Linked DNA regions of Homo sapiens. The protein of the gene in region 2 interacts with the protein of the main gene of each other region in a biochemical or structural test. Each region holds a gene or a part of one and is shown on either strand. Other genes may lie near its edges.

The links.
Region 1: the proteins of SDC2 (region 2) and GOPC interact in a test that uses a peptide from one of them, tested with the Homo sapiens proteins (one large-scale study listed by IntAct).
Region 3: the proteins of SDC2 (region 2) and LIN7A interact in a test that uses a peptide from one of them, tested with the Homo sapiens proteins (one large-scale study listed by IntAct).
Region 4: the proteins of SDC2 (region 2) and TJP3 interact in a test that uses a peptide from one of them, tested with the Homo sapiens proteins (one large-scale study listed by IntAct).
Region 5: the proteins of SDC2 (region 2) and SIPA1L2 interact in a test that uses a peptide from one of them, tested with the Homo sapiens proteins (one large-scale study listed by IntAct).
Region 6: the proteins of SDC2 (region 2) and GRIP2 interact in a test that uses a peptide from one of them, tested with the Homo sapiens proteins (one large-scale study listed by IntAct).
Region 7: the proteins of SDC2 (region 2) and ARHGEF11 interact in a test that uses a peptide from one of them, tested with the Homo sapiens proteins (one large-scale study listed by IntAct).

The regions. Positions count from the first base shown.
Region 1 is NC_000006.12:117,575,012-117,578,511, forward strand, and holds part of GOPC (Golgi-associated PDZ and coiled-coil motif-containing protein), read right to left. Parts: intron 2,461-3,500; coding exon 2,437-2,460; intron 342-2,436; coding exon 166-341; intron 1-165.
Region 2 is NC_000008.11:96,601,813-96,605,312, reverse strand, and holds part of SDC2 (syndecan-2 precursor), read right to left. Parts: intron 2,919-3,500; coding exon 2,785-2,918; intron 1-2,784. UniProt on the Homo sapiens protein: Cell surface proteoglycan which regulates dendritic arbor morphogenesis.
Region 3 is NC_000012.12:80,927,935-80,931,434, forward strand, and holds part of LIN7A (protein lin-7 homolog A), read right to left. Parts: intron 1-3,500. UniProt on the Homo sapiens protein: Plays a role in establishing and maintaining the asymmetric distribution of channels and receptors at the plasma membrane of polarized cells.
Region 4 is NC_000019.10:3,714,884-3,718,383, reverse strand, and holds part of TJP3 (tight junction protein ZO-3), read right to left. Parts: intron 1-3,500. UniProt on the Homo sapiens protein: TJP1, TJP2, and TJP3 are closely related scaffolding proteins that link tight junction (TJ) transmembrane proteins such as claudins, junctional adhesion molecules, and occludin to the actin cytoskeleton.
Region 5 is NC_000001.11:232,462,634-232,466,133, forward strand, and holds part of SIPA1L2 (signal-induced proliferation-associated 1-like protein 2), read right to left. Parts: intron 2,784-3,500; coding exon 2,207-2,783; intron 1-2,206.
Region 6 is NC_000003.12:14,537,543-14,541,746, forward strand, and holds the start of GRIP2 (glutamate receptor-interacting protein 2), read right to left. Parts: upstream 2,801-4,204; 5' UTR 2,767-2,800; coding exon 2,727-2,766; intron 1-2,726.
Region 7 is NC_000001.11:156,941,243-156,944,742, forward strand, and holds part of ARHGEF11 (rho guanine nucleotide exchange factor 11), read right to left. Parts: intron 3,192-3,500; coding exon 3,116-3,191; intron 2,861-3,115; coding exon 2,693-2,860; intron 1,539-2,692; coding exon 1,448-1,538; intron 748-1,447; coding exon 622-747; intron 192-621; coding exon 130-191; intron 1-129. UniProt on the Homo sapiens protein: May play a role in the regulation of RhoA GTPase by guanine nucleotide-binding alpha-12 (GNA12) and alpha-13 (GNA13). Acts as guanine nucleotide exchange factor (GEF) for RhoA GTPase and may act as GTPase-activating protein (GAP) for GNA12 and GNA13.

The DNA.
Region 1 (3,500 bases), on a different chromosome or scaffold from region 2:
GAGGTTGCAGTGAGCAGAGATCATGCCACTGCACTCCAGCCTGGGCAACAGAGCAAGACTCCATCTCAAAAAAATAAAAAATAAAAAAAGAAAGAAGTAAGAGTCAACCTCATTAAATATCCAATTTGTCACTTAAGAGTACAATAATACCCATTTTTTACACACCTTCCTGCCAGTTCCTTATCCAAGTACTTGGCAGCTAGTCTCGCCCCATATACTTCAGCCTGGAGAACAGCTATATGTCTACGAAGGGCTTCATTCTCTTTTCTCAACAATTTCACTTCAGCTTCAAGTTGTGCTTCTTTCATTTTTTCTTTTTTGTTTGCCTCAAGCTCTCTTTCCTATGTAATTTTTAAAAGCATATAATTTAATGAAAATAAAAACTCTTTAGCACTAGACCATGTTCCTGAAAATGCACAAAAGCCTACAGTTCAACAATGTATCATCTCTATAAAATGGAACACAAAGATCTGGATGTAGTTCTTTTGAACTAGTACCATAACATCTTGGAACTACTTCTAGATAAAATAATTGCACGCCATGGGTTACCCTGATATGGAGTATAGTAAGAAAAGTAGTCTACTCTAAGCTCATGTTATCACATATTAGTAAAAGTGGCTTCAATGGATAGTTGAATCTGCTATTTACTTCTAAAACCCTTTTGAGAGTTAAATAAGGACCCCAATAGACATTTTAACTGTTATTTATAGATCAAAAAAACCACGTAAACACTGAAAACTTGCATTTATCCTGAGCAGAACTGCTTTTACAGAATCCACAAATCCTATGAAAACATGGTTACATTTGTTCACAATATGTGGAAGACATTATTCCCTATACCCCCTTTGTCCCTTTTGTGAGGACGTAAATAAAAACCTACCTTAGCACCAGAGAAATTGTTTCTCTTGAGGAAATGATGAATAGTATTGTTTCTATTGTATGGGCACTGATTATTTTACATAATTATTTCCCTTTTTATTCTGGATATTGAGAAGCTAAGAAACAAATTTAAGCAAATTTTCAGCAATTCATGGAATATATTTTGGTACTAATTTAATGTGCCTCCTTTGGTCTACTGTTTTGAACAACATCAAAATAGATATATTTGAATACTAGTCAATAAATACGATAATCCTAAAAAAAATATATTTACATATACACACACACATACAAGCTAAAATTAATGACAACTACTAAATGCTAGATATATTTATCACTTCTTTGATTAAAAATATTTGTTATATATATGACAAACAGATGAAAGATTAGCAGACTCAATTTCTGGGAAAAAAAAGATTAGAACGTAATTTCTAGATACTGGTTTTAAAGGATTCGAAAAACTCAATCTAGAATCCTCCTTTTAACATAATTTTGGAATTATTAAACTCTTATTTCAGAACCTATGTCCTAAAAGGGCAAGTATCTGTTTCAAAAGAAACCAGTTTGGAGATACAAACAAAAATCTTTCTTATGACATGTTAAAGTTGATGCAACTTTTGAAAGAGCACTCCTAGACCAAGATTTCTTTGGCTTATGGGCTAAATAAACTTTATGTTGATGATTACCTACTTTCAATTACTTTAATGAGCTATTTATACTACATTAATGAAATGTGGGAGACATACTAAGCTACCACTCACTGGGGTTTTAATGATTCAAATCCCTAATGAATCTGACAAACTCTTGGGCCCGAAATTAACAGAGGTAAGCAAGAATAAGATGAAGGAAACTGAAGTTAACCATTTCTAGATTTCCAGAAAAAAATTTTCTTGGTTCTTAGTTAACCTGTTTGTTACTAGGTAACACCCAAGATGTTCATTTTACATTTAGATACCAAAGATTATATCTTCAAAAGAGGTAAAGCCATAAGACAAATTGGAACTTGATTAGGTTGGGGTAATGAGAAAAATATTAAAAATGTATTGTTATTTTCTAAAATAACTTCTGCTAAAGCATTTCAAAATTCAATTGTTTCAAAGGCCATACGATTATTCTCAAGACTCTTGAAAAGTTGTAACGCAGTAGATGAAGAAGAAACCAACATGCACATTCTTTTCTGGAAATAATTTCAAACAGAAACTTAAGGGGGTTAAAAACTAAGCCTGCTTGATATATCTTCAATACCCTGAAGTGGGAAAACCAATTGCTCTTTGAAGTAGAGGTATGAGCAAGCTACAAGGCTCAAAAATTGTCAAAAATTGACAGGCTCTGCAAATAATGGCTATAAATCACTAACAAAAGAAAAATGTTTAACAACATGCAGTGAGAAAAGAGCAATGGGCCATCCACTGAACTTTTCAGGTACTGGAACATTAAAAAATTGCCATTATTAATGCTATTTTCAAATACAATGAGTGACAACATATAATATGCAAATAAAACACTAAGAACACTTCAGCGTGACATATTAAAGCAAAACAGAAACAATATACTTACCAGCTCCTCCACAGAGGGGCCAGACTTCAGATATAAGAAAAAAGTTTTATAATTAGAAAAAGATCAAACAAATGATTTTATTTAGTGGTATAGTCATTATAAGGAAAAATCCCACATGTTGGATATCATTTGGGTAAAGTTCATTAGAACAAATATATTTGCAATCTATAAACAATAGTAACTGTAATAGCATTAGATTAAAACTTTTTGTTTTATCAAAATTAGTCAACATAACTGGTACAGTGTTCTTTTCATCATACTCTTTCAAATTCTAATGTTAAAACTTCAGGTAAATTCTTTTCTAGAGAAAATTTAGATTGTTTCTGAATGTTAATGTCAAATAGCTCGAAGAAGCAGTTATGAGCTTTTATTTCAGTTAAATAAAACCCTTCTAACACAGATTCACAGAGTTAGAAAACTTAAGAGTTTAACTTAAAATTATTTTCATGAATTTTAACACATCAGTACTAGGAACTAATTAACCAAATGAAATTAACTGAAAACAAATAAAACTTATAAATGTATTACTCTCATTATATCATCAACATCATTTCATGTCCTGCCTCTGCCAAGCAATAGCTGTCTTATTTATTGCTGTGTCCCATATAGGAACAAAATATCTGCTATCTCTTACACACTCAAAACATATGTGGTACACAGTGGCAGGAAAAATGCTTACAATATATTAAGAGCAAAAGAAAAGAATGTGCTACTGGTTGGTACCCAATTCCATTTCTTACTTCTTCCTTATTAACAGACTCCAGTTTTACTGGAAGTGGCCATATGGCCAATAGGAGACTGACATGCAGCTGGGGATGGTCAATGAAATGCTGGCAAAAATTACTGAGAAAGATTTAATAATAAGTTCTTTAAAGAAGGCTAACATCATGGAGAAGCATCTTTTTGCCCTTTCCTTAGATTAATCCTTCTTCCTGCCTGAAATGCAGACATGAAGAAATCCTGAGGATGGAAACCATAAGCTAAAAATGGCAGAGCACAGTGATGGAAGGAATCTGGATCTCTAATATTTGTGGAGCTGCCGTATCAACTCTAGACTGCCGGTC
Region 2 (3,500 bases):
AAATAGGTGAATACTCAGGTTTGTGACTAGGGAGAGAGGTAAACAAGTTCTGGTGAGAAATGAAATGGACCTAAGTAGTTACTGTAATATGAGAGACTGAGTTTAATTCATCCATATCCATATCATCTTTGTCCCATTATTATTACAAATCATATGGTTTCACCATGTGATTGAGTCCCTAAAGTCATTTAAGAGAGTTGATCTTTTCAGTTTCCTCTGACTCAGCCTCTGATCCGGCAGGCTGAACAAAGCGTGCAATCCAGGGATCTGAGAGTGTGGGAACTGAAGGACTCCACAGAACTGGAGCCGCCCTGCAGCTGGAGGTGCACAAGCCTCAAGCGGCTCTGGGTGGAAAATTCATTTTTTAAGTCAAAATGTTTTATCGTATGGAAGCAAAGGCTTGACTAAGAAGATACCATTTGGTAATATGGAACTAATCTGAAATACCTTCACTCTTGTATGAATGTATGTGCAAAATGAATCCGCAAAAAGACAGCAGGGATGATTAAATGAGGCCAAGTAAAGATCTGCCACATCCATGTCTGGTTGTTTGGATGCCATGGAAATGCAACAGAAGTAAAAGCTTATGAGTGATGCTCTTCTCAAACAAATAACGAGATTCCCTTTTGTGCATTTTAGTCACTTAAATTTACAACAAACTAGATAGGATATCCGTAACAGTGACATTAATGCCACTGTGAGACCAATTGAAAAGCAAAATCTACACTAATGGTATCCTAGAGGCAATGTTCAATTCGGCTGTACCACATAAACAGCAAAATGAAAAATTTAATCATTATTATTCATGTTATTCATGATCAATATTATCATTATCAGTGCTGCAAACAGTGTTCGACACATAATGAATAGCACTCAACAAATCTCCTATAAATGGATGAATTTCTACTATTACTATATTGAACACAAATGATAGTAAGAATATAAATGTATTAAAATCTTTTGGGCTCCTTAATTTTTAAATTCACCTGCCAAAGTTCTACATTTTTTATCTCGATCTGATGCAATTACTTCCTTAAAACCAATTTTTAAAAACTTAAATTAGTGGTCAATCCATTGCTGTTAACAAACCAGACAGAACTCTATGTCAAATTAAGTCTTGCTTAGGATAGAACTCTCTATCACTACAAGCCAAAACTCACCCAGGAGAGTTGCTTCCCTCAAGCTAGTGAGTCCTAATTGTCTCTGACTTCAGCAGATTTAGTCAAGAGAAGTGGTCAAATAAAAATGTGGTAAGAGCCAAATGCATCTTTAGTAAATAGTAGCTAATTGTGCCACACACACTCTGAGGCAGTCATCGTACCACCAATTGCACCTGCACTTTTCATTTCTCCCTTTCTTTTTTTGTTTCATTCACTCAACTGAAACATTGATACAGTAGCTTTTATGCATGGATCCAGCACATGCCAGGTGAGTCGGTCTCAGTTCTCATAGGGCTCTCCCTGCCTTCCTACCGCCTGGCTTGTGAAGTCTACCACTAATAGTAATTGACCCTTCTTGGTCCTACAGAAAGCACTTCAATTTGGACAGGGCTGGCTTCCTGGCTGTTCCACATCTGCAGAAACCCATCCAGCGGTGCCATTCACCATTCCAGTCACAGGCACTGGGAGGATGGAGGAGGAGGAAGAACAAAGGTACTCTGGGGCAAGGGTAAGAAAAGCCCACATGCATTCTGGCCTGAAGACGGGATGATTCTTACTCCAAGGAAGGCCTGTCGCCACCTTCATCAAACAGCCTTCCATATCCATACCCTGTCTGCTGCTAAAGCTTGGCAGCATCTCATTTCTAATCAACAGATGGGTGAGCTCTAAAAGGGGATGCTTGTGCTTCTGAGTTTTCTTAAGCCATATGTTACCCCTGCACTGATTGCAAAGTCTACCACTACAGTTATTACACATGCTCATTTGGTGAATTGGCTTGGTCTCTTCTGCTCCACCAATTCAATTAATGCTTACAGAATGGTGACTAGGTCTCAGGTGCCATGCTACATGCACTCACATTTCATCTTCTTCAAGGCCCATAGGAAATGGGTTCAGAAGCTAAGAAACCTGACTGGATCCAGGATTTGAAACTTAGGTCTTTGCCAGACTTTAATATGCATGTTCTAACTTCAGTGGGTTACCTATTAGTGGATGGTCAGCTAACTGCAATATTAACGAGGTCAAAATCACAAGCTCCAAGTTTTCATTAGCTGGTCACTTTACTCAGGTCTAAGGCCAAAGACCTTATTCTTAATAAGTCAGCTCTCAAAATGAATATATACAGATGTACCCAGGTTCATCATCATCGAGAGAGGTCAAGGATTACATAGTACTGATGGTCGGCCTAGGAAGACTGAGAAATGACTTAGTGAGACTAGGACCACCTCAAGACGTGACCTGGAGTCTTCTAATTACGTAACCTACAAACCAGGAAACCAAAGAAACAGGGCTTTACTTCTTAACTGGGCTTCAGACGTTCCTTAAGAAGGAGGGCCATGTGAAAAATAGTTGTATATAATTTGAGCCTGGATGACAGAGATTATAAGTGGGTAAATGCCAAAATGATCAAAAAGAGTAAGGAAGAGCCATTTATAACACCACCTGAAGACCATTTGTCCTTACACAATTTTAAGTGGGGTCTTTTAAAAGAACTGTTGTGTACATAGTTCATGATGGGTAGCTCCAAAAAGAAGAAAATAATACAAAAGGGACTGTTGTGTACAGTCAGTAAAGTGAAGCATTTGTAATAACCTGATAATGCAATGCAATGGAAAATAGAACGCACCTTTGTCTGAGCAGGTATCTTGTTCTGTATATTCAGCGTCGTGGTTTCCACTTTTGGAGCAGCACTAGTCAACAGTATCTTTGGAAGTGGTCGAGATGTTGTCAGCTCTGGACTCTCTACATCCTCATCAGCTCCTGGAAAAGTAAGTGAAGATGAACTGAGCATGGCAATCATGACACAGATGTCTCCATTATCAGGCACTATTGCCTGACGTTGACACTGACAGAATCATGTTCTTTCAAAATGCTGGCTCTTTAAGACTTCAGCACAAAGCTTCCTGTGGTCTTCACCATGATGAAGAAGTGATTTCAAAGGTGTCTGTGGGTAGTCTAGCAAGTTTTTCCTTAATAGTATTATCCTGAACATTCAAGTAGCCCTTCTTTCACTTGCATGTTCCTTTTCTCCCTGCTTGACAAGATTTTTTCCCATCTACACTGAAACGTGCTCCATTTCCATTTTAAGAACACAACAGTCCAGGTGCAGGGGCTCACGCCTGTAATTTCAGCACTTTGGGAGGCCGAGGAGAGCGGATCACGAGGTCAGGAGATCGAGACCAGCCTGGCCTATATGGTGAAACCTCATCTCTACTAAAAATTCAAAAATTTAGCTGGGCGTGGCGGCGCACGCCTGTAATCCCAGCTACTCGGGAGGCTGAGGCAGGAGAATCACTTGAACCTGGAGGTGGAGGTTGCAGTGAGCAGAGGTCACACCATTGC
Region 3 (3,500 bases), on a different chromosome or scaffold from region 2:
TCTATGAGTGAGAATATGCGGTGTTTGGTTTTCTGTCCTTGTGATAGTTTGCTGAGAATGATGGTTTCCAGCTTCATCCATGTCCCTGCAAAGGACATCAACTCATCCTTTTTTATGGCTGCATAGTATTCCATGGTGTATATGTGCCACATTTTCTTAATCCAGTCTATCATTGATGGACATTTGGGTTGGTTCCAAGTCTTTGCTGTTGTGAATAGTGCTGCAATAAACATACATGTGCATGTGTCTTTATAGTAGCATGATTTATAATCCTTTGGATATATACTCAGTAATGGGATCGCTGGGTCAAATAGCATTTCTAGTTCTAGATCCTTGAGGGATCGCCACACTGTCTTCCACAATGGTTGAACCAATTTACACTCCCACCAAGAGTGTAAAAGTGTTCCTATTTCTCCACATCCTCTCCAGCATCTGTTTCCTGACTTTTTAATGATCGCCATTCTAACTGGTGTGAGATGGCATCCCATTGTGGATTTGATTTGCATTTCTCTGATGACCAGTGATGACATTCACGTGTCTGTTGGCTGCATAAATGTCTTCTTTTGAGGAATGTCTGTTCATATCTTTTTCCCATTTTTTGATGGGGTTGTTTGTTTTTTTCTTGTAAATTTGTTTCTTTGTAGATTCTGGATATTAGTCTTTTGTCAGATGGGTAGATTGCAAAAATTTTCTCCCATTCTGTAGGTTGCCTGTTCTCTCTGATGATAGTTTCTTTTGCTGTTCAGGAGCTCTTTAGTTTAAGTAGATCCCATTTGTCTATTTTGGCTTTTGTTGCCATTTGCTTTTGGTGTTTTAGTCATGAAGTCTTTGCCCATGCCTATGCCCTGAATGGTATTGCCTAGGTTTTCTTCTAGGGTTTTTTATGATTTTAGGTCTTACATTTAAGTCTTTAATCCATCTTGAGTTAATTTTTGTATTGTATTGAGTTTAATTTTCATCATGTTTTAAAACTTATTATTAACATGATTAATATACCAATACAGTTATTCTAATATCTTTTAAATAATCCCTGCTAGGGTATGCTGTATTAGTGTTTTTCTACATTATTAATATTAACTAGTTTTATATTTAATTTTCCAGAGAGTTTTTATAATATTTTGATAATTTAATCACACTGCTCATGATGAATTTATTATTATGTTGGTGCAAAAGTAATTGCAGTCTTTGATATTACCTTCAATGGCAAAAACCTCAATTACTTTTGCACCAACCTAATAAATAAAGTCCTCAATCTTTTCCAAATAAAATACTCTTAAACCAGATTATTCCAGTCAGACACCAGTACAATCAATATGCAATCAGCATTCTAATTTGATTCAATCTAATAAATGAAGGCTACATTCATTTCCTCTAAATTTTATCTCTTTTATTGTAACCTGCCATTCAAGCTAGGAATAATTTTAGAATATTGGTAGGGTTGGCCAAATTATTTGTTATTCCTCCTAGCTTAGTCACCTGTAAAGTTTGTTAAAATATATTCTATGGTGCTCATTCAAAATATTGGTAACAGTGCCAAACAAGACCATGAACCAAACTTCCTTGGAGAAGTGTTTCTACTAGAAATCCAACAATGCAATCATCCACTTTATGTATTTCCACATTTTCCACAAGGTGTCTGTGAGAGTTGTGGGGTCATGAATATATAATGAGACTATGACATATGTCTGAACTTCTGCAATGTCTACTCTTAGTGATTTTCCACGTAGCCTCTGGGATCACCACTTTCTTTTCTAAGTGCCAATATCTCATTCTTTTAAATATATATATGTACACACACACACACATTTTATATATATTTTAAAATATATATATGGGCCAAGAGGCAACAAATAGATTGCCCTATAGTTTCCCAAAACACCTTTGTCATCTTTTTGGAAGCCAGGTTATTTGTCCATCAGCAATTACTGCTCTTCTCCAATTTTCCTCAAAAATCACTTTCAGCAGTCCCTCAACTATATTCCCCAATTTTTTCTTCATTATTGTTAAATAGACCCAGCTGTGATTTCATGCTATGTTTCTCCATCTATCTTGTGGGTTTAAATCTTATAGCCATGTTGTGACTCCCATTATTCTATCTTTTTTTAGTTAAAGGTAATCCTTTGATTAATTTAAAAACAAAAGATGTTATATTGAAATATAACTATCTCCACACTGGGCAAGTAAACAAAAGTTGCACAAACAGTTAGACTTGGACTAGCTATATTGTTTCTAAGGAAAATTACCATCAATGGAAATTAGACACCCTAGCTTTATGTCCAAGATAGGTAGATACTTGAATATAACTACAAAATAAGTTTCAATCCCTCATGATTTTTTTCAAGTGGTTTTCAGGCATATTTATTTTTATTGGACAAGTGTTTGAATTCAGTTAGTATATTACTTAGCAAAATTCAATCTTTTTTTTTAAAGATCTCAATTGAATAAACCAGAACTAAGGCATGGATGAAATTAACACAATTTTTAAGGTTAAGTTCACATTTGGTAGTGCAGAGTGAGTTCAAGTTAAATCCATTTTAATTTGTTTATTAGGACATAGTTCTGTCATTCATGTATTTATGGTTAAAAAAATTGAAAAGCGTAGCTTATATATATGTGTGTGGAGGGGGGCAATTCTATAGCAACTCCACCCATTTAAAAAACCTTTTCAGTTGTATTCTGACATTAGCTCGTGCGATTCAATTCATAAGTTAAAACAGCAGGGTAAATGCAGACAACTGAAACAGGGCTATGACTATCAAAACCAACACCTCACATTCTTTCTTGGCCCTTGAGAGCACTACACTTGTAGGAGCCAGCTACATACACAGAGAGGCAAAGTGACATCCTAAGGTAGCCACTACTTTTCATTATTTTAGGTTAGAAGGCTTTTGTTTTGTTTTGTTTTGTTGCATTAAGAATAATCCATGACAGCTAAGTCTTGCTAAGCCAATTTTATTCATTCATTCACTCATTCAATCAACAAATACAAAGAGCGTGCCAACTATGTGCCACACAATGTGCTGGGTTCTACATAAACAAACCCGACATGGTCTCTGACCTGATGGAAAGTATATCCTAACAGGCAAATGTCATGACTTTAAGAAAAGAACTCAAAGAGATACTGGCATTGTGCATATAACACCATCTCTAATACCCAGGACACCTTCCTGTTTGATAGTACTCCCTAGATGTTTTCTTTCCTCTACTTAAGAGCTAGGCCTTAGTTGTGATCCCTGAAAAACAACACTCATAAGCAAGAGCATTAATTTCATAACTGACAGGAGCACACCAAATACATTTCAGGGCTCGGATGAATGACACACCAAACTAGAAAGGATTCACCAAATTTCTTATTTTTGTAACCAAAATGCTTTAGAGATTTGAGTCATTCTCTTTGTAACTTTTAATTATCAAATAAAAAACAGGCTGGGTGCAGTGGCTCTTGCTTGTCATTCCAGCACTTTGGGAGGCTGAGGCACGCGCATCACCTGAGGTCAGGA
Region 4 (3,500 bases), on a different chromosome or scaffold from region 2:
TGGCCAGGAACAGTGGCTCACGCTTGTAGTCCCAGCACTTTGGAAGGCCGAGGCGGGAGGATCTCTTGAGGCCAGGAGAGACCAGCCTGAGTAACAGAGTGAGACTTCCATCTCTACACACACACAGACACACACACACACACACACACACACACACACACACACACACACTTTTTTTTTTTTTTTTTTTTTGAGTTGGAGTCTCGCCCTGTTGCCCAGGCGCAATCTCAGCTCACTGCAAGCTCTGCTTCCCGGGTTCACGCCATTCTCCTGCCTCAGCCTCCCGAGTAGCTGGGACTACAGGCACATGCCCGGCTGATTTTTGTACTTTTAGTAGAGATGGGGTTTCACCGTGTTAGCCAGGATGGTCTCAAACTCCTGACCTTGTGATCCGCCCCCCTCGGCCTCCCTAAGTGCTGGGATTATAGGCGTGAGCCATCGTGCCCGGCCTTTTTTTTTTTTTTTAATTAGCCAGTCTTGGTGGCACTTGCCTGTACTCCCAGCTACTTGGGAAGCTGAGCTGGGAGGATTGCTTGAGCCCAGGCGGTGGAGGCTGCAGTAAGTCATGGTCACACCACTGTACTCTCATTCCTGGGCAACACAGTGAGACCCCCATCTCCACATCCACAAAAATTTTTAAAAATATCTTAGGCAGGGTGCAGTGGCTCATGCCTGTCATCCCAGCACTCTGGGAGGCCAAGGCAGGAGGATCACTTGAGTCAGGAGTTGGAGGCCAGCCTGGCCCACAGGGCAAAACCCATCTCTACAAAAATACGAAAAATTAGCCAAGGATGGTGGCAGGCGCCTGTAATCCCAGCTACTCAGGAGGCTGAGGCAAGAGAATCACTTGACCCTGGGAGGCGGCGGTTGCAGTGAGCTGAGATCACGCCACTGCACTCCAGCCTGGGTGACAGGGCAGACAGCACAACACTATGTTTCAAAAAAAAATAAAATTATATATATATATATATATATATAAGCTATGGCTGGGCACAGTGGCTCACGCCTGTAATCCCACTTTGGATGGCCAAGGCGGCCGAATCACTTGAGGTCAGGAGTTTGAGACCAGCCTGGCCAACATGGTGAAACTCTGTCTGTACTAAAAATATAACAGTCATGGGCCAGGCGTGGTGGCTCGTGCCTGTAATCCCAGCACTTTGGGAGGTCGAGGCGGGCGGATCACCTGAGGTTGGGAGTTCGAGACCAGCCTGACCAACATGGAGAAACCTCGTCTCTACTAAAAATACAAAATTAGCTGGGTGTGGTGGCACATGCCTGTAATCCCAGCTACTAGAGAGGCTGAGGCAAGAGAATTGCTTGAGCCCGGGAGGCGGAGGTTGCAGTGAGCCGAAATCGGGCCATTGCACTCCAGCCTGGGCAACAAGAGCGAAACTCCGTCTCAAAAAAAAAAAAAAAAGTCACCTGGGCGTGTTGGCACCCGCCTGTAATCCCAGGTACTCGGGAGGCTGAGGCAGGAGAATCACTTGAACCTGGGAGGCAGAGGGTGCAGTGAGCCGAGATCGTGCCACTGTCTCCAACCTGGGCGACAGACTGAGACTCTGTTTCAAAAAAAAAAAAAAAATATATATATATATATATATATGTATGAGCTGGGTGTGGTAGCAGGCACCTCTAGGCGCTGAAGTGGGAGGATCATTTGAGCCCAGGAGGTCGAGGCTGCAGTGATCCATGATCTTGCCCTTGCACTCCAGCCTGGGTGACAGAGCTAGACGCTGTCTCAAAAATAAATAAAGAAATAAGTGGGTTAAAGTCCTAGCAGTGAATGGGGCTCCCGGGCCATGTTTACTGGCATATGCTTGGCTGCAGCCCCAGTTACACACAACACTCGTGCGCCCACTTTGCAGCTGAGAAAACTGAGGCCAGATGGTGAGCTGGCCTGAGGGATTTGGCTGCAGCTCTGTTTGCCCCTGCACCTCGAACTCCAAGCCAGTGCCTCTCACCAGAGGGGGACCCTTGGCAACGTCTTGAGACATTTTGGTGTTCAATACCAGGCCGAGCGCGGTGACTCACACCTGTAATTCCAGCACTTTGAGAGGCTGAGATGGGCGGATCACTTGAGGTCAATAGTTCGAGAGCAGCCTGGCCAACAGGGTGAAACCCCGTCTCTACTCAAAATACAGAAATTAGCTGGGCGTAGTGACAGGCACCTGTAATCCCTGCTACTCGGGAGGCTGAGGCAGGAGAATCACTTGAACCCGGGAGGCAGAGGTCGCAGTGATCTGAGATGGCGCCACTGCACTCCAGCCTGGGCAATGGAGCAAGACTCCATCTCAAAAATAAAACAAGTCGGGCGTGGTGGCTCACGCCTGTAATCCCAGCACTTCGGGAGGCTGAGGTGGGTGGATCACGTGAGGTCAGGAGTTCGAGACCAGCCTGGCCAACATGGGGAAACCCCATCTCTACTAAAAATACAAAAATTAGCCGAGTGTGGTGGTGGGTGCCTGTAATCCCAGCTACTCGGGAGGCCGAGGCAGGAGAGTTGCTTGAACCCAGGAGGCAGAGGCTGTAGTGAGCCGAGATTGCGCCATTGCACTCCAGCCTGGATGACAAGAGCGAGACTCCAACTCAAAAAAATAAAATAAAATGAAACAATAAAAAAATAAACCTGGAAGGTTCTCCTGGCATGAGTGAGTGGAGGCCAGGGATACTGCTAAGCACCCTGCATTGCCCAGAATGGCCCCATCCCAGAGAAGGATCTGGCCCCAAATGTCAATGGGCAACGCAGAGAAATCCCACTGTCAACCCCTCTAAGAGAGGAAGCTGGATAACTGCACCAGGACACATTGTCTTCCTCCAACCACCCACCGTCTGCTCTCATATCCATGCCCTGCTCAAGAACACTCGATGGCTCCCTAGTACCATCCTCCAAACCTGGGTTCAAATCCAAGGCTTTGGAGATGGGCATAGCCTTAAGCCCCTTATTCCCACCACCCCTGACCTTCGGATCACCTTAATGAATTAAAAACCTGCTTTTGGCCGGGCGCGGTGGCTCACACCTGTAATCCCAGCACTTTGGGAGGCCGAGGCGGGCGGATCACGAGGTCAGGAGATCGAGACCATCCTGGATAACACGGTGAAACCCCATCTCTACTAAAAATACAAAAATATAGCTGGGTGTGGTGGCGGGCGCCTGTAGTCCCAGCTACTCGGGAGGCTGAGGCAGGAGAATGGCGTGAACCCGGGAGGCGGAGGTTGCAGTGAGCCGAGATTGCGCCACTGCGCTCCAGCCTGGGCGACAGAGCGAGACTCCATCTCAAAAAAAAAAAAAACCAACCAACCAAACAAACAAACAAAAAACCTGGTTTTCTACTGTTGCCTCACGAAGTAAAAATAATAATAGCAAAAAGAAAAGGAAAAAAAGAGAAAATCTGCTTTTCAGCAATCTACTTCATTTGTGCCTTAATTCTTCTGTGCATTCAGTCACTCAGTCAACAAAACTGTTGCAAGCCAAGTATATGACGTGTGATTGGGAACCAGCG
Region 5 (3,500 bases), on a different chromosome or scaffold from region 2:
AGAAGTAGTTCTGTAATAGGCACAACACAAATAAATTTTGGTCACTTCTTTTTCAACTTTGTTCTAAGCAATCCTATCAAAAGACGACACATAAGATGTACCCAGCCTTCTTTCAAATATCAATGCGATTATCAGGTGAAGTTTATCATCCATGTATCAGGCTGAAGAGTTATTGGCTGAGCCTTTCCAGAGTCCTCCAGCTCTGGCTCTTCTGCTCATTTCCTCCAATCACCTGCCACCTCCCCTACTTTGTCTTTTTGCTATTTCTTTATCCCCTCTGTTTATTGCTTCCTAACATCCCCAAAGTCTGAAGTAAGGTGTTCTCCATGTATTTGGACTTCTTCCATGGACCCAATTATCACACGAAAATTGTAGTCTCCAAGCCAGGACTGGCTATGTAATTTGTGGGGCCACAAGAAAAATCAAAATGCGAGGCTCCTTATGAAAAAATTAGTAAGTATTTCAAGATGGCAATGGCAGAGCATTCAACCAAGCACGAACTCTTCTGAGAGCGGGTCCCTGTGCAACTGCATGGGTTGCACATCCGTGAAGTGAGCCCTGCCTGGCCCTCTAGGAACAAACTCTCATTCTGCTCCTGTACTGTTACCTGCAAGACAGACCCTTTAGTTCCACTTTCCACCACCTGAGAATGGATACTGAGTTAACCATCTGCCAAACGGGCAGGCATTCCCAACATCTCCACTAAGACTGCATTCTTCTCTTTCTTCCCATTTCTGTTACTACCACTCTGCATCAACCCTTACGATCTAATCCCTTCAACAGTCTTTGGTCTGGCTTGTTTCCAACAGCTCATGTTGCAAGTCATCCTAGACACAGAATATAATTCCTAAAATATATTTGTAATATTGTGCATCTTGGTCACACTGACAATACACTTTTCTAGGAAAATAGGATGGAGTCCATCGAATAGCAAATGTATAAAAGCCCATGTGTAAATATCCAGGGAAAGTACATTTTTGTGGTTGGTGAAGTGGTATTTGTGTTGTATTTTCAGAAGCACAGATTATAATGATTTGGTGGATATGCTAAAAAGAAGTATTTGCAATTAGCAAAAGCAGAATGCATCCAGAGACTCACCAGTATAATTCAAGTCAATTCTCTAGGTATATAAACTAATCATTTACTTAATCACCCCAAACTCTTATCTAGGCTTGCTCACGTATACCTGATAATACTGTTGAACACACTGAGGCCCTTTACTGTAAACAGAGTCCACAAATAATGAAATTACTTTTCCAAGGCTAGCAGACACTGCCCTGATTTTACCTTCTCTTATACATGGTCTCTAATAACAAAAGGGAGGAAATATTTTTGGTGGGAGGAAAGGGGGCAAGAAATGGATATAATTTCTCCTTTTCTCATGATCCATAGTGAACTAAACCTTTTCTAATTAAAAAAAAAATTACATCCCTCTTGGGGGAAGATTTACACACAAGAAATTCTATTGTCAAAGCATGTTTTTTTCTTATATTACCAAAAATAAAAACTAGAAGTAGTTTGATTTATTCTTACTACTTTATTTTATATGCTCAAACTAAAATCTGATTCTTACTTTGTTAAAATTGGGAGCAGAAATATGACTACTGAACACCATGGATAAAATATAAGGGTTTTGCACTAAAAATCACATACATGAAAATCTTTCTTAAGTCTAACTTTTCAAAAGCCTTTCTAAATTAATGTGTAATTCTGAAAAACTCCCTTAAGAAACTGTGGCTCTAAGATTAATAATATATTTAATCTGGCACATTAAACAAAAATAGCTGCTGTATAAACATGCAGGGGTGAAACTGCAGATAGGACTCGTCATTCATACAGTCAACAGCAATTCTGTTGTTAATTACCCACTGGGAAGGTATGTTATGTCAGCCTCCATAAACAGACATTCTACCCAGACACTTCTGTTTTTCCTTCAAATGCTACTAAAATACATCTTAATGTTCTCTTTTGCAGGTTGGCTTAACTTTTCTTTTCCAATTGATTTATGATGGTTGCTTCTCCACCATTCATGTATTCAACAACTCCCCAAAAGGACCCAGCATTTAAAATTAAGCTCTGTATCTGTAACAAATAGTAATGCATTCCCTAATTGGTATAATCATGGTAGCAGTTCCCCAGTGAAAGTTATTTTGAATCTGGAATTGAAAACATAAGGATGGCGGGAAAATAGAAAACATGTACTTACTACTAATCGCTGAACAATTTCCCTGATGTCTTCAGCACAGTTGTCTACCGAGGACAGGAGGACACATTCTCCTCTTTCGTAAAACACTTTGATACTCACTAATCCAGATGTCCACCCAATCACATCCCTGCAGGAACAGTTGAATACAACATTCTTGGAATCCTTTTCAATCAACATGATGAACTCATTGGAGATCCCGAGAAGACATTCAATGTCAGCAGACTGGCCGAAGTCCCGGGCTATCACGTGCCACATGATGGCCCCAATGCTAAACAAGTGGGCATCCTTCCTTGGCTTTACCTTCTCCTTTTTCTTCGCACCCAGCGTAATGAAGCTGAACTTCACAGAGGTATCCACGGTGGCGGTTGTGACAAAGTTCTCCGCCAGATCTTTCAAGTACTCCTGCCTCGTTCGAGTGGCCATTGCTCGAAACTTTTCTGATTTATGGGCTGCATTTTCTGCATTGATTACTTTGGCTAAAAGGAAGTCCCGGAACACGGCTGACTTTGGAAAAGTTACACCTTTGGGAATCGGTGGGCCAAATGGTGGCACATCTTTTGATCTGGAAACTCCAACACTGAGGAAGTAAAAACAGAAACAAAATGAGATGAGCTATGATACCATAATATGTATCTTTCCGAATTTGACATATATATACACACACACACACATATACATACACACACACACACACATATACATACACACATACACACACACTTTCAACTTAACTGGTTTATTCTGCAAGTTCTTGTTCTCCTAATTGCTGCATACCCAGGGTTTGTTGTTATTGTTGTTTAAGCAAAATGCTTTAAACTTAGTAGACAGGAGGTGTAATGGGCTGAATTATGTCCCTCTCAAAATCCACACGTTGACAAGATAACCCATAGTTCCTGGGAATGTGACGCAATCTGGAGAAAGGACCCTTAAGGAGGTGGCTAAGTGAAACCATTCGGGTGGGCCCTAATCCAACTGACTGGTGTCCTTATAAGAGGAGAAAATTTGGGCTTACAAAGAGACACCAGGGATGTATGCACACAGAAAGAAGACCATGTGAAGACACAAGGAGAAGACGGCCATCCATAAGCCAAGGGGAGAGGTCTCAGGAGAAACCAATCCTTGCTGACACCTTGATCTTAGACTTCCAGCCTCTAGAACTCTGAGAAAATAAAAGTCTGCCGTTTAAGCCACCTAGCCTGTGGCATTAGTACGGCAGTGCTACCAAACTAATACAGGGGGTAACACATCCACAGCATGTGGAATAAGCAGGCTGGCACTCTATAACTCTGTGGGG
Region 6 (4,204 bases), on a different chromosome or scaffold from region 2:
CCATTTACAGATTAGGAGAATGAGAATCAAAGAGGTGGAATGAGTTTCTCAAGGTCAGAGACTAGGAAGAGACAGAGCCAGGACGCAAACTCAGGCGAAGGATCCCCCATGGCCACAGCCCCTGCTGTGGAGTAGGAGGCCAGGCCTGCCTGAGGAGTCTCAGAGCCAAGGGGTAGGCCTGGTGAGGGCCCCTCGGAGGAGTGGGTAGCCCAGGGCACAGCAGGGGGACCTTCACACATGTACACCCACACCCACTGAGACTTCCCTGCCCCCAGCATGGCAGCAAGTGCCTGCTCAGACCTAGCAGGCCTGGAACAAAGATGTCTTTGTGGCTGCGGAGTCAGAGCAGGCCTCCCGTCCTCAAGGCAGGAGAGTGAACATGGAGAGGGACTTCCTGCCAAAATCTGTGTTCAGGCCTACTGTGTGCCCCAGCCTGGGCCAATGGAGATAGGTCACAGTCCCTTCCTGCCAGAACTCTGGGGTTAGTGACAGGAAAGCAAGACTCCCTGGAGTGAGACGACATGCCCAGGGTGTGGGGCCTGAGAAGGGACCCACCCAGAGTCCATCAGGAGCAGAGAAAGGGCATAGGGCTGCCTGGTCCACAGAGCCCAGCTCCAATCGGGGCACTCACTGACGCACACTGCCAGTGGGCTGACTTCTCAGGGCTGCAGTCTTCTGTGCCAAATGTGGAGGTATATGGCTGTCCTTACCAGCAACAGGGGAGGTCACATGACCAGGCCTGGCCAATCAGAGGCTCAGCGATCCATCAGGGGTGGGCATGTGATACAAGTTGGACCAATGAGAGCCGTTTCTGGGGCATTTGCTGGAACTACTGGAAATAGGCTCTCTTTCCTTAGGGATGACTGAGCTGGTTGACCTTAAGTTTGAAGGTGCCAGGAACTCTCAAGGAGAGGAGAGAGTCTGCCTGGAAATGAAGCTCACTAAAGTGAAGCAGAGCAAGCTACGAAGAGACCCAGAGTCCTAATGATGTTAATTGAGCATCTGGATCCCACTGTGCCTGAAGCTCCATCTTTACACTTTTTGGAAGAAGAGCCTTGGTGCTGATGCAAACTGAAGCAAGTGTGATCATGAGGTTCTGTGACCTGGGGAGGAGACCTAGGGTGGAGGCTACAGTGGTGAGGGTAGAGGTCAAGTAAGTCATCAGAGAGAGAAAATGTCAGAGAGGTCAGGAAGGGCCTTGAATGCAAGGCTTAGGAGCTGAGCAGATTTGTGTTTTGGCAAGCTTCCTCCCATGGCAGCAAAGGGGTGGAGGCCAGGCCAGGGAGGAGACTGGGCAAAGGCCCAGGCAGTTGATGCTGACCCTGGGCCGAGGTGGAGGTCACAGGCCCATGAGGAGGGGGAGACACCTCCCTGGCAGTGCCCCAGGTAAGGTCTCCAGGGCACTGCTGCCTTTGTGGCCCTGACCACAGCAGACCAAGGTGACCCCACTCACCTGGGCCTTGGGTTGAAAGAACAGATGTGTCCAGGCCAAGAAGGCAGAGCCTCCATTTACAGTGCAGTTGCCAAGGATGGGTGGGCCCATCGGGTCAAATCCCAGCTTTGTCACTTCTGGCTATATAACCCTGAACAAGTCACTTAGCAGCTCTCTGCCTCAGTTTCCCCAACTGCAAAATGGAGAGAATAACAGTACCCAAGTGGCAGTGTAGTTATGAGGATTAAATGAGAAAATGCACAGAAAGCTTAGAAAAGAGCCTGGCCCAGAGGAAGCTCTCGACAACAGCCAGCTATTATGATTATGAGTGTTATTTTTCCTGGGTCGCTAAGGCTGGGTCCAGAGGTGACCTGGCTCTGCTCCTTGCCATGGGAAGGGAGGTGGGAATCAAAGTCCACTGGGCCCTCAGAAGCAGGGCTGGGGGCTCTGCAGTAAAAGTCATCGGGGTGTCAATCCCAGCTCGGCCACTGCCCTCCCTGAGCCTTGGTTTCCTCCTCTGTCCACTGGGACCACAGTCCTTGCCCTTGGAGCTGTGGTGCAAAGATATGTCAAGAGCGTGGGAAGAAACCAGTGAGGCAACCCCAGGGCAGTGAATGCAGTATGTTCTGGTCCAGGCCCCAAGCTCCCTCTTTGGAGGAATAGGGTGAGCCCAGGCTGAGGCTGGAGAGACAGATGGAACAATCGTGTCTGCCCCTCCCCTGGGTCCCAGCCTCAGCACACCCAGGAATGTGGCAGCTGTGATCCCCCATCCCACACATTCCCAGAGCCCCAGGGGCTCACCAGTCAGACCCCCAAACCAGAGTTTCTCCTCCTGCCGAGAACCAGTCTCCTGCCCAGCTGTGCCAGCACAGGAACTCCTCACCACCACCTTGCCCATGGGCCTTGGGCTCTCACCCCTCTGGGTCGGACACTCACTCCCACCAGGCAGCTGTGCAGATCCTGAGATTGGGCAAAAGGCTTCGCTCACACCCAGATAGGACCAGCCTTCCCCCTACAAGGCTGAGCACTGCCCTCGGAACCTCCAGACCCGCCTGTTCTGCCTGCCTGTGCTGGACAGCCCTGGGGGAGGCTCAGCCATCCTGCTACAGGACAGTGGCCAGGGTCAGACAGACAGCCCCAGCAAGTGTCCTGCCCCACCCTCCCCAAGCCCTGGGTCTCCAGGGAGTGGCAGTCCCAGGTCTCAGCCATCCAGTCCCCTCTCTCTGGGCAGCAGCTCCAGAGGGATCTATGTGTTCAGCCCCATCACTCTGCCCACAGACCCCCCATTACGTACCCGCCTCTCCAGGGGTCTCCCGGCTGAGCCCACACAGCATGTTCGCTATTGTCTCCCCTGCTGCCCACCAACTCCCTCGGGAGCCACGCTGCTTGGCCCTCCCTCCCCTCCCCAGGGAGGGGCTGTGGGAGGGAAGCTCACAGCTCCCACTGGCTGGGCACCGAGTCCACCCACTGCAGCGGGCGGCTCTCTGCTTAAAGGGGACATGGCTATTGTCAAGGCTGGCTCCAGGACAGGGTCCAACATGCCCCACCCCTGCAGCCTGGGTCTGGACAGGGGGTCTTTGAAGGTGGCATGCCTGGGGCTTCCCCCAGGGCTCTCAGGCAGAGAGAGAGCCTGCTTCTAACTTGCCCTGGGACTTTGGCAAACGACTCTTCCCTCACTAGGCATCAGTTTTTTCATCTGGAGACAGGGAACAGTGCTTTCCAAACTTTTTTTTTTTCTAAACGGCAGATTCCAAGAGAATTTGCACAGAACCCCAGGACATAAGCTAGATGAAGCACAGACTCTTTGACTGCATGAACAATGCCAGGGCGTCTCTGTAGGTCTCAGCTTAGAAACCCTTGAGCTTGGAGACCCTCCAGGGCCCTCCCACCAATGTTCCAACTACCTCTCCTAGGTATCAGTTTTCCCTCGGTAAAATGGGACTTAGGAAAGATGAACCCGGCAGCCTGCCACGTGGAGTGGCCACCCAGCTTTTTGTGAAGACCAAGTGAGCTGGGTGGAGGATCTGCCCGCCTCTGGGCTTGATAGGCAGGGCCAGTTGGTCACAGGCTCCAGCCACACCTGGCAGGCTCTGCCCCGTCCCAGACCCAGCTGGGCCTTAGCCTTGCACACTCCTGGGATTCCTCCACATTGGCTCAGGACTGACCAGGCTGATCTTAATGGACACCTGAGGCTCCTCCTCTACCTGTCTGTGAGAAGGGGTGGCAGGCTGCACCCAATTTCCCCTGCCCTCCATCCCACCAGTGTGTGCTGGCACCAACTGAGGGTCAGACACCAAGAAGGGTGGGGTGATGGTGACAGGGCACTGAATGGTGGATGTCAACAACCTGTACAACTGCACAGTGCGTCTGGCAACAGAGAACCAGACAGACAAGGCCTGGCTCCCATGGAGTTCCTGACCGCGTGGGAACACACGAGCCTCATATTTCTTCCATGTGCCCTGCAGCTAGTGGGAGAGGGCTGCCCGGTAGTTAGGGACCCGAGGTTTCTTGTGGGTTCCCTCCAGAACAGTGACCCCAGCATGGAATTTAGCCACAATTCCTGGGCCGCCCCACACTGGCTCCTGCCAGCCCAACGCTAGTGGCACCTTTAGAATAATCCAGGTTCTAAATCTGGGGCAGGGCTACTTGTGCTTTTGTATCTGCAAACTCAAGACCCTGCCCTGCCGCCCACTTCCTATGGTGCCTTCCTCTTTGGGCAACTTGAGATCTGTTTCTGGGGGAAGGGTCCAGGTGCCAGGCAAGTTTCCCTTG
Region 7 (3,500 bases), on a different chromosome or scaffold from region 2:
TCTACTCTTTATCAAAACCTCACACCCCGGGCCCTGATGGACTCTCCCATCGCCCCCATACTCACACCCAACCTGTGCCTACAGAAAAAGGCCTGGGCTGGCTCCCACAGGACAGTTCAGGGCCCTTACCTCCAGGCAGCTCCTCAGGTTCAGGTTCACCATGGAACACGTCTGAGTCATCCAGTTCTACCCTGAGGAAGGAAACCAACACAGGATGAGATCCCATGAGATTCCACCCTGGACTCATGCATTAGAATGGGCAATGGAGTAGGATCCGAGAAGGACGGTGTGGGCCTCTTCACCTGGCTGGTCTGCTTGGCAACCCAGAGAGGAGGGGGGCTGCTAGCTGAGCTTCTCTGGTCCCTTGCTCTACATCCCCCTCACCCTTCTTCAGGCTCAGCTCTATTATAGCCAGGTGGCAGGCTGTGGGGGAGCAGACAGGGACAAGAAGCAGGGACAGGGGGCATGTTCCTCCATCTGCCAGCACTTGGAGCTGTCTGCTCCCTGCTAGCATTTCCCTGTTGTGGCTGTCTACCCACGGGGGCGAAGGGCTTAAAAGCAGCAGGAAACAGGAGGTTTGGAGTGGAGAGAGTGCAGGGTCTGGAGGGCTAAGCACTGCACCTGCTGGGTGTGGGGCCCTGCTGGGCTGGCTCCCGGGGACCTGGGGGTGGAGGATGGACGGGCATTGGGGCAGCTCCGGGGTGCCTGGTGGCATTCCGCACGGCCTCTTCTAAGAGCTCCATCCATCTGTTGCTCGGCAGGAACAGAGAGGACTGTAGTGAGAGCAAGATAGCAGCACGCACCACCCCGTACTGAGCCCACTGGAACAGGGCTTCCAGGCCCTAAGAACCCTCTGCCTGGCAGGTGCCCACCTCCCTGTACAGTCCTCCCTGGCTGCTCCCTTGCGGTTATATTACTTGCAGCTACCAAATCCTGGACACCAACCCTCTGTTACACTCTGTGCAAAGCATTCTATGTTTTCCCTCTAAAGTAATCCTCTAACAGGTAGCATTAGCCACATTTTACAGATGAAAACCCTGGAGTTGGGAAACAGTCTGACTCAACCTGTCTCCTTCCACTGTACCATGCCACCTCTGGCAGCTGCTGTCAAAGAACATGGGCTGGGTGGGAGGCAAATGCCTGAGAAGGATGCATGAATCTAATCTGCCTAATGGTGAAGGGAGTAGGGCAGGAAGGAAAGAAGCAGCAGCAGCGGCTGGAAGACTGCCAGAAGCTCATTCTCCCAGAAGCGGGCCTGGTGACCAGGTCGGGGGTGATGACCCCTCCCAGCTTCTCTACTTCTGTCCTACCTCCCACTTCCTTCCCAACCCCTTGTCCAGGGACTGCTTTGGGGCCCAAACCTGGCCTTGCTACCCACTGTCCTCATAAACACCACCCTGGTCCGAAAGGGACCACAGTTACGGGTAACCCCTCAATCAATTCTCACGTGTTCTTGTCTGATGACGTCAATGCAACCAGCTCATAGATCTGGGGTGGGCCCAGCTTGGAGGTGCAGATGATGAAGAAGGCCCGTTTATCTGTGTGAGGAAAGGAAGGTAGAAGGGTCTGTACTAGGGATGGCAGGTGTGACTGCAGCCTGGGCCAGGGTGACAGAGTGGGACTCAAAGCCCTGACCCTCAACGCAGATGGAGAGTGCAGCACGAGACAGATGTGGATCTTCAGGACCACTTGGAACCCACTTACATAAGGGACAGAGGAAATTCCAGGACCCCTAATGTCATCTTCCACAGCCACCCCCATTCCTCTCCTGCTCTAATAACAGTGATGGCTGATAGGTGTATGGTGCTTAGGAGTTATAAAACTTTTTTTTTTTTTGAAACGGATTCTTGCTCTGTCACCCAGGCTAGAATGTAGTGGTGCCATCTTGGCTCACTGCAACCTGCGCCTCCCGGGTTCAAGTGATTCTCCTGCCTCAGCCTCCCGAGTAACTGGAATTACAGGTGCCTGCCAACATGCCTGGCTAATTTTTGTATTTTTAGTAGAGATAGGGTTTCACCATGTTGGCCAGGCTGGTCTTGAACTCCTGACCTCAAGTGATCTGAGTGCCTCGGCCTCCCAAAGGGCTGGGATTACAGGCATGAGCCACAGTGCCTGGTCAAGGGTTTATAAAACTTTTTCATACCCGTCATCCCTTTTGATGCCCACAAGAGGTAGGGTAGGTATCACTCCTATCTTACAGACGAAGAAAGTGAATCCAGAGAATTTTGCTCCAGAGCCCTTTCTCACACACACTACACTTCTCATTGAAATGTCCCTGTCCACTGGACCCAGCTCTGTACCGTGGGTACTAACATCTTCTGTAACCAAGCTCTGCCCAAGTCACTCTGTAGCAGAAAGGCTTGTCCTACTCATTCTGCCTAATCCCATTCTTCCCAATCCTGCTCAGACACTCTCACCCATCCTGGGTGTGCACATCCCATCCAGCACTGTGCTTGGGGACTGCTGACCACCCCTGTGCCAGGTTGTCTGTCTTCCTCTTGGTCCCCATCCTAACCCTCATCCTACCCCACTTTGGGCCAGTCCTACCACTTAGGCTGGGTCAGGACAGGAGGAAAGGAACACAGGTGGACAGGTAGGTCCTGTAAAGGCTCCAGACTGGCCCTGCCTCACCCAGCACTTGCTGGACATGGTCCCTGAGCCCCAGGCCAGCCTGGACCATCTCCCCAGGTACCTGTGGCCACAGAGCGGATGAGCACAGCATTGAGCTTGAGCACGGGGCTGAAGGTCTGCTTGCTGTCTGAGGAGCCCACAGCAGTCTTGCTGTGGCACTTCAGCAATAGCTTCTCATCCTGTTTCTGTAGCAGCACTAGGAGGTCCTCCAGCAGCAGCACGTGGAGGTCTGGAGGGGTATGGTCATGGGAAGGTGTTCCCTGGTGCCTACTCATCCCTCATGAGCACAATGCAGGGCCACAGGCTCTTGGAGGCTCTAGGAAGTCCTGGGAGTCTGGTGACCCCATTTCTCTCTCTGATTATTCCCTTCCCATGTCCTGAGCTATCACCTCCAGTCATGTTTCCATGCTTGGGAAAGACAGAAGAGCCCAGGGAGGCCCACCCACTACAGGTTCCTGCTCAGTCCCAGTCCCCTGGCACATACCCAAGGTCTTATCCTTGCTGATCCTCCAGGTCAGGGGTCCCTCATGGATCATTTTTCTGGTTGTAAGATCCAGGCTCTGTTAAGGAGACACCATTCATTCATTCATTCATTCATTCATTCATTCAAGTGTTTGAGAGCCTACTGTGTGCCAGACATTGTGTTAAGGTGCTGGGAATTGGTAAATAAGAAAAAGTCCTTGCCCTTACTCTCTTGTGCGGGATGAAGACAAGCAAAAAGGTAACTGTGAAGTCATGTGCCATGTGGCAGCAGGGGGATATACCAATGGCTCTGACTTGGGTCTCCCACCTGCCCCTACCACGTGCCAGCTACAGTCCCAAGAAGATCACATACTGCTTTTCCTGCCCATGCCTCCAGCTCTATTCCC